Regions from separate parts of the Homo sapiens genome. Here region 2 is linked to region 1. The links come from fine-mapping of genetic effects on gene expression. A gene starts in region 1. The other region holds a variant in brackets. All regions are shown on one strand. Distances are between the middles of the regions.

The links. PIP is the estimated chance that this variant, and not a neighbour inherited with it, causes the effect. A credible set is the group of variants that fine-mapping cannot tell apart.
Region 2: its variant is the best candidate, but not a certain one, in a credible set for the expression of POLR2L in whole blood (TOPMed, PIP 0.72).

The regions. Positions count from the first base shown.
Region 1 is chr11:840,455-845,454 of GRCh38, reverse strand. POLR2L (RNA polymerase II, I and III subunit L) reads left to right here and starts at 2,926. Exons shown (of 2, transcript NM_021128.5): 1 at 2,926-3,041; 2 at 4,975-5,000. The coding sequence starts at 2,947. TSPAN4 (tetraspanin 4) reads right to left here and starts at 2,603. Exons shown (of 9, transcript NM_003271.5): 1 at 2,540-2,603. RefSeq lists silencers at 1,931-2,099, 2,085-2,314, 2,335-2,424, 2,535-3,164 and enhancers at 2,433-3,176, 3,177-3,922, 3,923-4,667.
Region 2 is chr11:886,481-891,984 of GRCh38, reverse strand. The region is part of intron 8 of CHID1 (chitinase domain containing 1); the gene reads left to right. Among named protein-coding and RNA genes, the nearest start is that of CHID1, 22 kb to the left of the region's middle. RefSeq lists enhancers at 1-178, 179-696, 1,736-2,255. The variant A/C (reference allele first, on the strand shown) is at 3,245.

The DNA of each region.
Region 1 (5,000 bases):
AGTCTCGGCCCCATCTACAGGCCCCACCGCTCACAGCGCCGGTCTCCCAGGACCGTAGAGAGGACCCGGCCCCATCTACAGGCCCCACTGCTCACAACGCCAGTCTCCCAGGACCGTAGAGAGGACACGGACGGCGTGGGTACGGTGGGCAGTGGCCTTGGCTGTGTGCACCGCTGAGGTGTCGGGCACGTGTGCTCGTGGCGCCGTGTGCACCCACCCCATCCCACAGCACCCTGGGGGTGAGCACACATCTGTCCCAGGCATGGACAGGGCCAGAGAGCACAGGTGTGGGGGCGAGGCTGGGGACAGACACCTTCAACACCCTCTCCCAGTCAAGGTCATGCCCAGCCTCAGCGGCAGGAGGGATGCAGCCCTCCGGGCGGGCAGTTTCTGATCCCACCTGAGCTTTACAGACAGGGAAACGTGGGCTGGGATCCCAGACCAGAGTGCAAGTTCAGCTGAATCCCAGCCAGGGCTCAGCCCGTGCTCCCCCTCCCAGCCCTCCTGGTCCCGTGGCTGGCCTGTTTCCAGGGCAACACCCAGGGTGGGAGGGGTCAGCAGCTAAAACTTCAATCATGGGTTTCCCCTGGTCCTTTGCCCTGAAGTGATCCCTCCTCTAGCAGGAAGCAGCCGGGGGAGCCCACCCTCTGCTCCCTGTGCCCTGCCCTGACCACAGGAGGCTCCACAACGCCCCCTTCTATAAAACCAGCGCCTCACCCTCCTGGCCCCATCCCAGACCCCCCCCCCCAGAAGCCAGGCCGAGTCTGCGCCAACACTCCACACCCAGGAGAGAGGGGCCCCCACCCGCCCCTGCTGGCGGGCACAGTGCCCTGCCCCGCCACCAGGCTCCCTCCCACCCCCGCTTGCCTGAGGAGGGCCAGGCCCAGGCTCCCCAGGGTCCTCAGGTAGAGCCCAGTCGGGACTGAGGACAGGCCTGGGCCCCCAGGGGCCTCCGCACATATGTGGTGGGGGCTCGGGGGAGATGCACAGAGCCTGAGGCTGGGGCAGTCTCCAGATCTCAGGGGCTCTGCTGGGAAATGGAGGGATAGGAAGCGCACACACTCGGAATTCCAAGAATGTCAGCTTGGCCCAAGCCAGGATTTGGAGAGCAGCTCACTCCCCACCACCCCTTGCTCTGAGTAAACAACTCCTGCAGGCAGGAACAGGGGCGGGACAGGCCCTGGACCCTCCTCCAAGAAGCCTCCAGGCCCCCACCCACTCCCCAGGGCCCACCCTGCTAACATCCGGGACCCCCCTGCCCCCCTCACCTCCACAGCCACCAGCAGCCTCGCAGCTGAACCTGGCTCTGACCCCAGGCCACCGTTACTCAGGGCCCCTGTCCTGCCCTTCTGCCCAGAGCAGGATGTGCGTCCACTCATCCTGGGGGGAGGGGGTCAGGGAAGGGAAGTGGCCTCGGCTCGTGGCTCCGCACGTGGCTGGGTGGGGTATGGCAAATGCCACTGGGGAAGCTGCCCAGGGCCCTGGCCAGGGTGGGAGCGGAAACCCCAAGCGTGCAGTGGATCTGGCTAGCACCACTCCGGACCCAGAAAACCCTTCGTCCTCCTCCTCTGCAACTAAGGCAGACGCAGCATTGCCCTGAGAAAGCGGCAGCTGATGCCTGGAACCCAACACAGGTCCCACCCCAGCCAGAAGCCCCAGGCCGGCAAACCAGCCCAGAGCCCCCCATGGGTGCCGCTTTGCGGCCCACCCACCCCCACAGCCCACCTCGCACCTCCAAGGAGCCTTCTTTGCCTCTCACTGCACACCGACCCCCCATTTCCTCACCCCCACCCCAGGGGCACAGCAAGAAGGGTGCTGGTGCCAGCCCCCCCGCACTCCATCCGAGAGACACGGGCTCCTCGTCCCTCGTCGTCCGTAGGCCCTGAGCTCCAGGGCAAGCCAGAGCTGAGGCCTTCAGGGGGTCCTGCCAGTGCAGCCTCCGGGAGTCTGCCCAGGGATCCCCTGTGCCGGGGTCTTCCAGGTTCAGCTCAAAAAGCACCTCTTCCACGACTCCCTCCCCGACCTCCCTCCCGGGTCCCCTCTCCCCGTGCTCAGAGGCGCGTCTGAGCGTCGGGAGCTCGGGACGGCGAGCAGCCAGCAGAGCCGGGACCCGGGAGGGCGCACCCCGACCCCATTCCCGGGAAAGAGCGGAAAGAACGCGGACAGGAGCCCGGGGCGGGGAGCTGCCGGCGGGGGCTGTAATTGCGCAGCTGAGGCCAGGGCGGCGCCCCTAGGGGCTGGGCCGCGTCCAGAATGGGACCCCCGAACTCAGCGCCGAGAGCCCCGGACACCCCGCGGGCAGAGGCCGAGGCGGAGGAACCCACTACTCGGCGCGGCCAGGAGGGGCGGCAGGAAGACCCGCCCCGGCCCCCGCCCGCCCTCTCCCCGAGCCCCCGCGCCGGACCCCACTTGTTGCTGCGTGTCGGCTCTGGGCTCGAACTCGCGCGCCCCGCTCGCGTCCGGCTCCAGCCGCTCCCGGTCGGACACCTCCGGCCACGGGACCCTGGCCGCACGCCCCCACAACCCCCAGGCGCAGTACCTGCGCCGCCGCCTCCCGCTCGCGCCGCCCGCTCCCGCCGCGCAGCTGTCAGTCAAGCGGACACGAGAAACGCGAACCGCCGCCGCAGCTTTACGGCCCTGCTCAGACGCCGTAGCGCCGGGATGCACCAAGACGGTGGGCGGGGGTGTGCGGTCTGCTGCTGCCGCGGCCGCGCGGGCCCGGGAGCCCCGGGACGCACAGGCCCAGGAGCCCCGGGACGCACGGGAAGCCCCTATCGCGGCGGAAACTGCGGCCAGCGGTGGCGGGGCCGGTGGAGGGACGGCCGGAACAGCGGAGAACGAGCGGAGCCGATTCTCCCGCAACAGTGGACGCGCCCGGGGCGGGGCCTGGGGGGGTTCTTCGCGTGCGGCCGGGCCGGGCCGGGCAGTCTGGGACGCGCCGCCGCCATGATCATCCCTGTACGCTGCTTCACTTGTGGCAAGATCGTCGGCAACAAGTGGGAGGCTTACCTGGGGCTGCTGCAGGCCGAGTACACCGAGGGGTGAGGCGCGGGCCGGGGCTAGGGGCTGAGTCCGCCGTGGGGCGCGGGCCGGGGCTGGGGGCTGAGTCCGCCCTGGGGTGCGCGCCGGGGCGGGAGGCGCAGCGCTGCCTGAGGCCAGCGCCCCATGAGCAGCTTCAGGCCCGGCTTCTCCAGCCCCGCTCTGTGATCTGCTTTCGGGAGAACCTTATCCCCTGAAGTCTGGGGAAGAGAACGGAGTTGGGCTTCAAACCAGTGGTGTCCTGGGGATTCTAGGTGGCCTGGCGGGTCGCAGGCGTCTTGTCACCCGCAGTAAAGCCCTTGGCCTCCGCCCTATTCCCATCTCTGCCCCCAGGCCCACCCCATGTCCTGCAAACCTCGCTGCAGGACGGGCGGGCGCGGCGGCTGACATCTGTAATCCCAGCAGTTTGGGAGGCCGAGGCGAGAGGCTTGCTTGAGCCCAGGAGGTCGAGACCAGCCTGGACAACCTGGGGAGACCCTGATCTCCAGAAATTTATTTTATTTTATTTTTCTTTTTTGAGACGGAGTCTCGCTCCGTCGCCCAGGTTGGAGTGCAGTGGCGCGATCTCGGCTCACTGCAACCCCCGCCTCCTGGGCTCCAGCAATTCTCCTGTCTCAGCCTCCCGAGTAGCTGGGACTACAGGCGTGTGCCACCACGCCCGGCTAATTTTTGTATTTTCAGTAGAGATGGGATTTCGCCATGTTGGCCAGGCTGGTCTGGAACTCCTGACCTCAGGTGATCCACCCGCCTCGACCTCCCAAAGTGCTGAGGTTACAGGCGTGAGCCACCGCGCCTGGCTCTATCTTTTTAATTCGCCGGACATGGCGGTGCACACCTGTGGTCCCAGCTACTTGGGAGGCTGAGACGAGAAAATCGCTTGAGTCTGGGAGGCAGGTGGAGGTTGCAGTGAGCCAAGATCACGCCACTGCACTCCAGCCTGGAAGAGAGAGTGAAACTCCGTCTCACGCACACACACACACAGAAAAAGAAATGCAGGGTAGACTTGCTGACCACCCTCATCAGGCTTTGTAGGGGAGGCGTCTTTCTCCTGTGCTTGTCCCTTGGTGCTGCTGTCACCACGGTGCCTGAGTCTTGGTGCCCCCGCTGGAGTCTGACCCTCGCCCACTGAGTCTTCGTCACATGTGAAGCCCTGGGCTTGTGTGCGCCAGCCTGCCATCGGCACTTGGTGCAGCTTGCTGGACAAACGAGGAAAGCGAGTGGGCTGCTAGACTGAGTGGCTGGCGGCCTGTCCAGACCCTTTCCCCGGATAGGAACGGCAGGGGCCTCCCATGTGGCCTCCCCTTTCCCAAGCTTCTGTGTCTCTGCACATTGGAGCCATCGGTGTGGGAGTTTTCTGGAGGTCTTGAGGGTGACTGGAGCTAGGTCCCAGGGAAATGAAAGCTTCTAATTGGCTTGGGAAGTGGGAGAGGTGGCTCCGTGGAGAAGCAGTCTCTCTCTGATGGAAGGAAGCAGAGGTGAGGAAAGACCCCACAGCGGCAGAGCAGGGCTTGCTCTGGCTGGGGTGGGGGTGAACCAGCTAAGGGCAGGCCCCTGGAGAGCTACCCTGCCGTGGCCAGTGCTGGATGAGGTGGCTGCACATCAGCACCTTGGTGGTCTTGGTTTTCTAAGCTCCCCGCAATTACTTCGTTTTCATTTCATTTACATTTCTTACATACGTTATACACACACACGTACAGCCAGAGTAGGTGGGAGAGGAGGCTCCTCACGCTCCACCCAGGGTTCTGGGCATTTCCAGGTTACTCCAGCCAGGATCATACTGCTAGATCTCAGCTTCTGAGCCGGGTGAATCTGTTCGCCTTGCCGGTGGCGGGGGGGGTGAGGCCAGCAGGCAGTGAGAGGCAGGTTGGATGTGGGCTCCAGGCCTTTGCAGACCGTAGAGAACTCAGTTGGCCTCTGCTCCTCCCCTCGACACAGGGATGCGCTGGATGCCCTGGGCCTGA
Region 2 (5,504 bases), 46 kb before region 1:
GTCACCACACCCAGTTAATTTGTGTTTTTTTTTTTTTTTTTTTTTTGGAAATGAGGTTTTGCCATGTTGCCCAGGCTGGTCTTGAACTCCTGGGCTCAAGCGATCATCCCACCTCGGCCTCCCAAGCCACCGTGGCCAGCCTTTTCCGATGTAAGGCACTAATGTCTGACCTGTGTTCCCAGGGTTTGAAGGGGGCTGGCAGGGGCTGGCTGTGAGGACACGTCCTTCCAGAGCTGACAGCACCTGTCTCAGGTGGTTGGGAGGACTACAGGCCTGGGGCTGGGTGAAGATTCCTCGGGGCAGCAGACACTCCTTGTCCAGAGGCCATGGGCATGGCCACCTCTGTGAGGCACTGATTTCATGGGGCTCCCAGGTTGCCCTTTGTGCTTAGGGGAGCTGCAGAAGCAGCCATCGGTGGGGACCAGCTCAGGAGCCCAGGGCAGTTCTTGAGGCTGGGGCAGAGGACCAGGTGCCTGTCTTCTGCTGGTGGCAGCCTCTGCCTGAGCTTCTGGCCCTAGGCAGGAAGTGGGCAGTTGGAGCTGGGCCAGGTCCCTGCCCCTCACCCCACAGCAACCAAAGCTCACAACTCCATTTGCATGGCGCTGGTGGGGGTTGCAGCTGTAGGGTGGGATGCACGCCAGGGCTACGGGCACGGTGACGAGGCTGGGGGCGGGGCCGAGGCCCACGGTGGGGGTCCCCGGGGAAGTGGGACCCAGCTCGGGGGAGGGCTGGGCACTGCTGTTGTGCGCCCGCTCCACTGGAGCACAGGGCTGTGCCCTCCCAGTCGGCGGGGCCGGTGAAGGTGCTGAGGCTCCCGTGGGTTCTCCCGAGACTCTGGCTACAGCCCCAGAGGTGAGGAGGGCTGTTTTGTCATCTGTTTATCCTTCCCCCATCCCACTCTGAGGGAAGAGCAGCCACTGCAGAGGAGCCTCGTAAATCCCTGTCCCTGGTGCTTTTGCAGCAGCGCGTAATTGTGCTTGTCACTCACCTCCCAAGAGCAGCGCTGCCAGCACACAGGCTCGCTCTCTCCAGGGGCACTGTCTGTGGAACAATGGCCCCTGGAGAGAGGTCTGCGTGCTGCGGGGAGGGGCACCCCAGTCGCCAAATGCCAATTTTATCGTGTCCTTCGTCAGCAGACAGAGGCAGCCCTAACTCAGCTGCCACAGACCCCAGGGTGTCTGGTCCTGGAACTGAGCACTCTGCGGACCTCCAGCCCTGCTCCCACAGTCAGTCTCAGCAATGGAGGAGACCCAGGGGCAAAGCCACAGCGTAAACCCCACAGGCCAGTGGGACCAACAGGCTGTCCCCAGGTGCCCATGTGGTGGTGCCATCCTTAACATGGGAGCAGAACCCTTGGGTCACTCTCTAGTTGGCCCCTTGTGTTTTCTGGGCATTGTTAGCTACTGGGACCCCCTTGGGTCCAGGGAGCTGACCTCAGGAACCCAGGAAGGGCTGGTTTCCTTCCTGGGCCCTGCTGGCGCCGTTGCCGGCCTTGTTGTCAGTGGTCCACTCTGAGGTGGGCGGGGCCGCGACCCTGGCCAGCTCCTGCAAGCCCCGTGGTTCAGGGCCGGCCATCGCTATATGTGGAGCCCAACTCAGCAGTCAGAGAAAGGTGACGCATGGGGGCGCCGTCACCGTATCCCCAGCAAGCACGTTTGCACAGAGGCCCCTGCTCCCGTCGCCCACCTGCCTCTTGCCCGCAGCCTCAGGGGATGGGGCAGGCCGCGTGCTGGCAGTGTGTGTTGAGGCCTCTGTGGGGGACCGTAGGCACCCCGTGCGGTGTGGACGGGCCGAGGTCCAGGCTGAGGTCAGGCCCCAAAGGGCCAAAGGGTGCTAACCGGCCAGTCAGGGAGCGGGCTAGGCCTGCAGGCTGAGGAACAGTAGAGCAGCCATCGTGAGGGGGCGAGGACGCCAGCAGCAGCAGACAGGGGCCAGGGGACCCAAGGCCATGGGGAGCGGGCTAGGCCTGCAGGCTGAGAACAGTAGAGCAGCCATCGTGAGGGGGCGAGGATGCCAGCAGCAGCAGACAGGGGCCAGGCGACCCAAGGCCATGGGGAGCGGGTTCAGAAATCTCTGACAGGTGGGCAGAGGGGGAGGGGAGCTGTGGGTGGAGGAACAGCTGTGGCCGCTGGCTGCTGGGGGCAGATGCCCTGAGCATGGGAGATTGCAGGGACAGTGATGCCAGCATCTGTTAGGGTTGGGGAAAGGTATTCCCTTGGACTGCTATGGGGCCTGACAGTGATGCCACCATCTCTGTTAGGGTTGGGGACTGGCATTCCCTCAGGGCTGCTGTGGGGCCTGGCTCTGCAGGTGGCAACTATAGGGCCAGGCGGTGTGGCTGGCAGGGACTAGGGACCATAGGCCAAGCCCACGCCTTCCTCACATTCAGCCTGGAGGGAGGTCAGCTGAATGGAGGTCAGAGACTATGGCTCTCCCCTGCTGGGTGGCTGGAAGATGACAGTCTAGGGAGACAGGGAGGCTAAGCCCACAGGGTCTGGTAGCTGGAGTGCAGGAGCAGGGAAGAGATGGGCCCACCCCAGCAGATGGCGGCGGGAGGGGTTGACGTGGAGCCGACGTTCCTTTTGCCTGGCGTCAACTACAGTGATGCAGATGTCACCCAGAGATGGCAGCTGGTCGGCCGAGGGAAGAGGGGGCATCTGCCACGTGGGCCCAGTGTCAGGACCAAGGTGGGTGGGTGGGGGTTTCAGGGAGTTCGCAGGTAGAACGTGAGAGTCGTGCTGTGCTGGAGGGACGGTGTGGGTACATGGCAGGAGACTGTGGGCTCACTCGTGTCACCGTCTCCCCTCGGATCTGGGAGGACGCTGTTCTGGAGGCCGCAGCCGCCCCGGCCTCTGGCAGCTGTGGGGTCCACGTGGCTGGAGGGACCTGGTCAGGCCCCAGCCTGGGATTGTTCAGTGTGAGGCAGCCAGCTGGGCAGTGCACCCCCAGGGCCCTGGGGCACAGAGCGGCCTGTCTCAGCACAAAGCCTGAGCAGGGGCAGCCCGGGAAGAGCAGAGCGCGTCCAGCCGTCTGGAGGGGGAGGGGCACTGGCGTTGCTGTGGGCCCCGGGGTCCAATCGAGGCCAAGTGGGCAGGCACTGGCGTTGGTGTGGGCCCGGAGTCCAGTCGAGGCCGAGTGGGCAGGCACTGGCATTGGTGTGGGCCCGGGGTCCAGTCGAGGCCGAGTGGGCAGGCACTGGCGTTGGTGTGGGCCCGGGGTCCAGTCGAGGCCGAGTGGGCACTCA[A/C]CTTGCATGCCGCTGCCTGCATGGGGCCCACCCACGACATGGCGATGGGAGGGTCGGCAGCTGGCTGTGATGAGCTCCTTTTCCTTCTTTCCTTCCTCCCGGGGCTTTCGTTCCTCAGAAATGAATGCAGAACATGGTGTTTTCGGTGTGAGCAGTAATTCCTGTTCATCGGAAGTCACGCTGCGTCTAATCCGTGACAAGCTGTTACCTCATTGCTCAGCCGTGGTGATCCCCTCTTGTCCAGGTGCCACGGGGCACGGAGACAGATGGCTCTGCTGCCGGCTCTCGCATGTGTCTGGGTGAAGGACACAGGCTGGGGAGGACACCTGGCAGTGGCCCTTTTGCAGTGTTTCTTGCAAGTAGGAGGAGGTCCACATTCCCGGGTGGTCCTCAGGGCCAGCACCAGGTGGGGGTTGGCAGGACCGGGGGCACAGGACTGGTGCCCTCCCCTCTTTCTCCCACTGATCACCACCGTGAGCTGCTTCCGCCTCTGAATGGGGCCTGCTTTGTTCCCTCGTGTTGTGTTACCACCCTTGAAAGCGTGAGGACCGTTCTTAGCCTGCGGCCGTGGTTGGTGCCCAGCTGTAGCAAAGTTGTTGGGTCAGTGGGTGGCTGCGTGAGCCCCGAAGGGAAAATGCAAGCTGTGCCACAGGCATGTCACATGTCAGCATGCTGCACTGAGGGGCGTGGTGTGGAGCCATGTCCCCTGGCAGGACTGCCCCTTCCTGCTTGGGGATGTCGTGGAGCTGCATTTCTGGTGGACGCATGGGGAGCATTCGTGGTTTCTGTGCCACATTCTGTAGCTGGTGGGAACCAGATCCTGGACACGTGGCCTCACCTACCAAGGCCTTGTGGAGTGAAGCCAGCTCTGCCAGGAGTGCCTGGTGTGGCCAAGGCCATGAGGTGGTGGAGGGCATGGCGCCCACGAGAGGGACAGGGGCGTTGCAGCACCGTGGATGTGGGGGAGGCACACGAGCCCGGCTCACGGCAGGACCCCACATGTCTGATAGCAGCGTGTGAAGCGGGACGGGGTGCTTGGAAGGGCATCATGGGCACAGGGGAGGGGTTGGACTGTGGGACAGGCCCCTGCAGAGTAGAAGCTGCGGCTGACAGGGCTGCCATGAGATTGGCAAAGTAGGAGCCAAAGGGACAGGCAGTCCTGCTGGCCATGGTCCTAGGGGCAGCAAAGGCCCAAGTCAGAAGCAGAACCGTGGAGCACGTGAGAGGAAGGAGTGACAGACACAGACAACTCGGACCAGGATGTGGGTGCATCAGAAGACACCACAAAGGAGCGAGAAGACCAGCCTCTCGCCAGGTGGACGATGCTGCCCACACCACTGACCAAGAGCACATGACCACCTGAGAGAGCTAGAGGAGAGAAAATGGGAACACGGTGGTGGGAAAGCAACGACGGGCTGCGTGTGGAGGTACGCGCCTGTAATGCCAGCATTTGGGGAGGCTGAGGCAGGAGGATCGCTTGAGCCCAGGAGTTTGAGACCAGCCTGGGCAACATAGTGAGACCTCATCTTTACAAAAAATTTAAAAGTTAGCTGGACATGGTGGCACCTGTGGTCCCAGCTACTCGGGAGGCTGAGAGGAGGAGCTTGAGCTCAAGAGGTCTTGAGGCTGTAGTGAGCCGAGATTGTGCCACTGCACTCCAGCCTGGGCAACAGAGCAAGACCCTGTCTCAAAAACAGAAGAGAAGAAAAGAAAGAAAGCAACAAAGACCCCAGAGAACAGCGGGCAGGAGACCTGGACTCTGAACCACGAGAGGCCACAGTGGATGCGTGCATGGAGCTGATGGGCAGGCCAGGAGATGCTCAACCATGTTATTCATGAGAGAACCACAAATGAAAGCCACGGGGAGATCATGGCTCAGGAGCAGCCAGGCTGGGATGGAACCGACGCAGCCAACGCTGCCTGGCATCTGCCGCCAGGACCTGAGCGATGTGGGGCTGTGAGCTGGGGGGCTCTGTGTGGGAGGGGCCAAGGTGCCACCTGGGACCGACTCGGAGAGGCGCTGGCAAGCCCGAAGCCCACCTTCCGGCAAGGCCTCTTCCTGGTGCAGTCGGCACCTTTTTGCTGTGTCCTCGCATGGCAGAGAGCTGTGGTGTCTCTTCTCATAGGGACACTAACTCCACCATGGGGCGCGTCATCATGGCCTCGTCTAGCTCTAATCACCTCCTAAAGGCCCCGTCTCCAGAAACCATCGCATCAGTGGTTAGGGCTTCAACATAACCATTTGTGGGGACACAAGCAC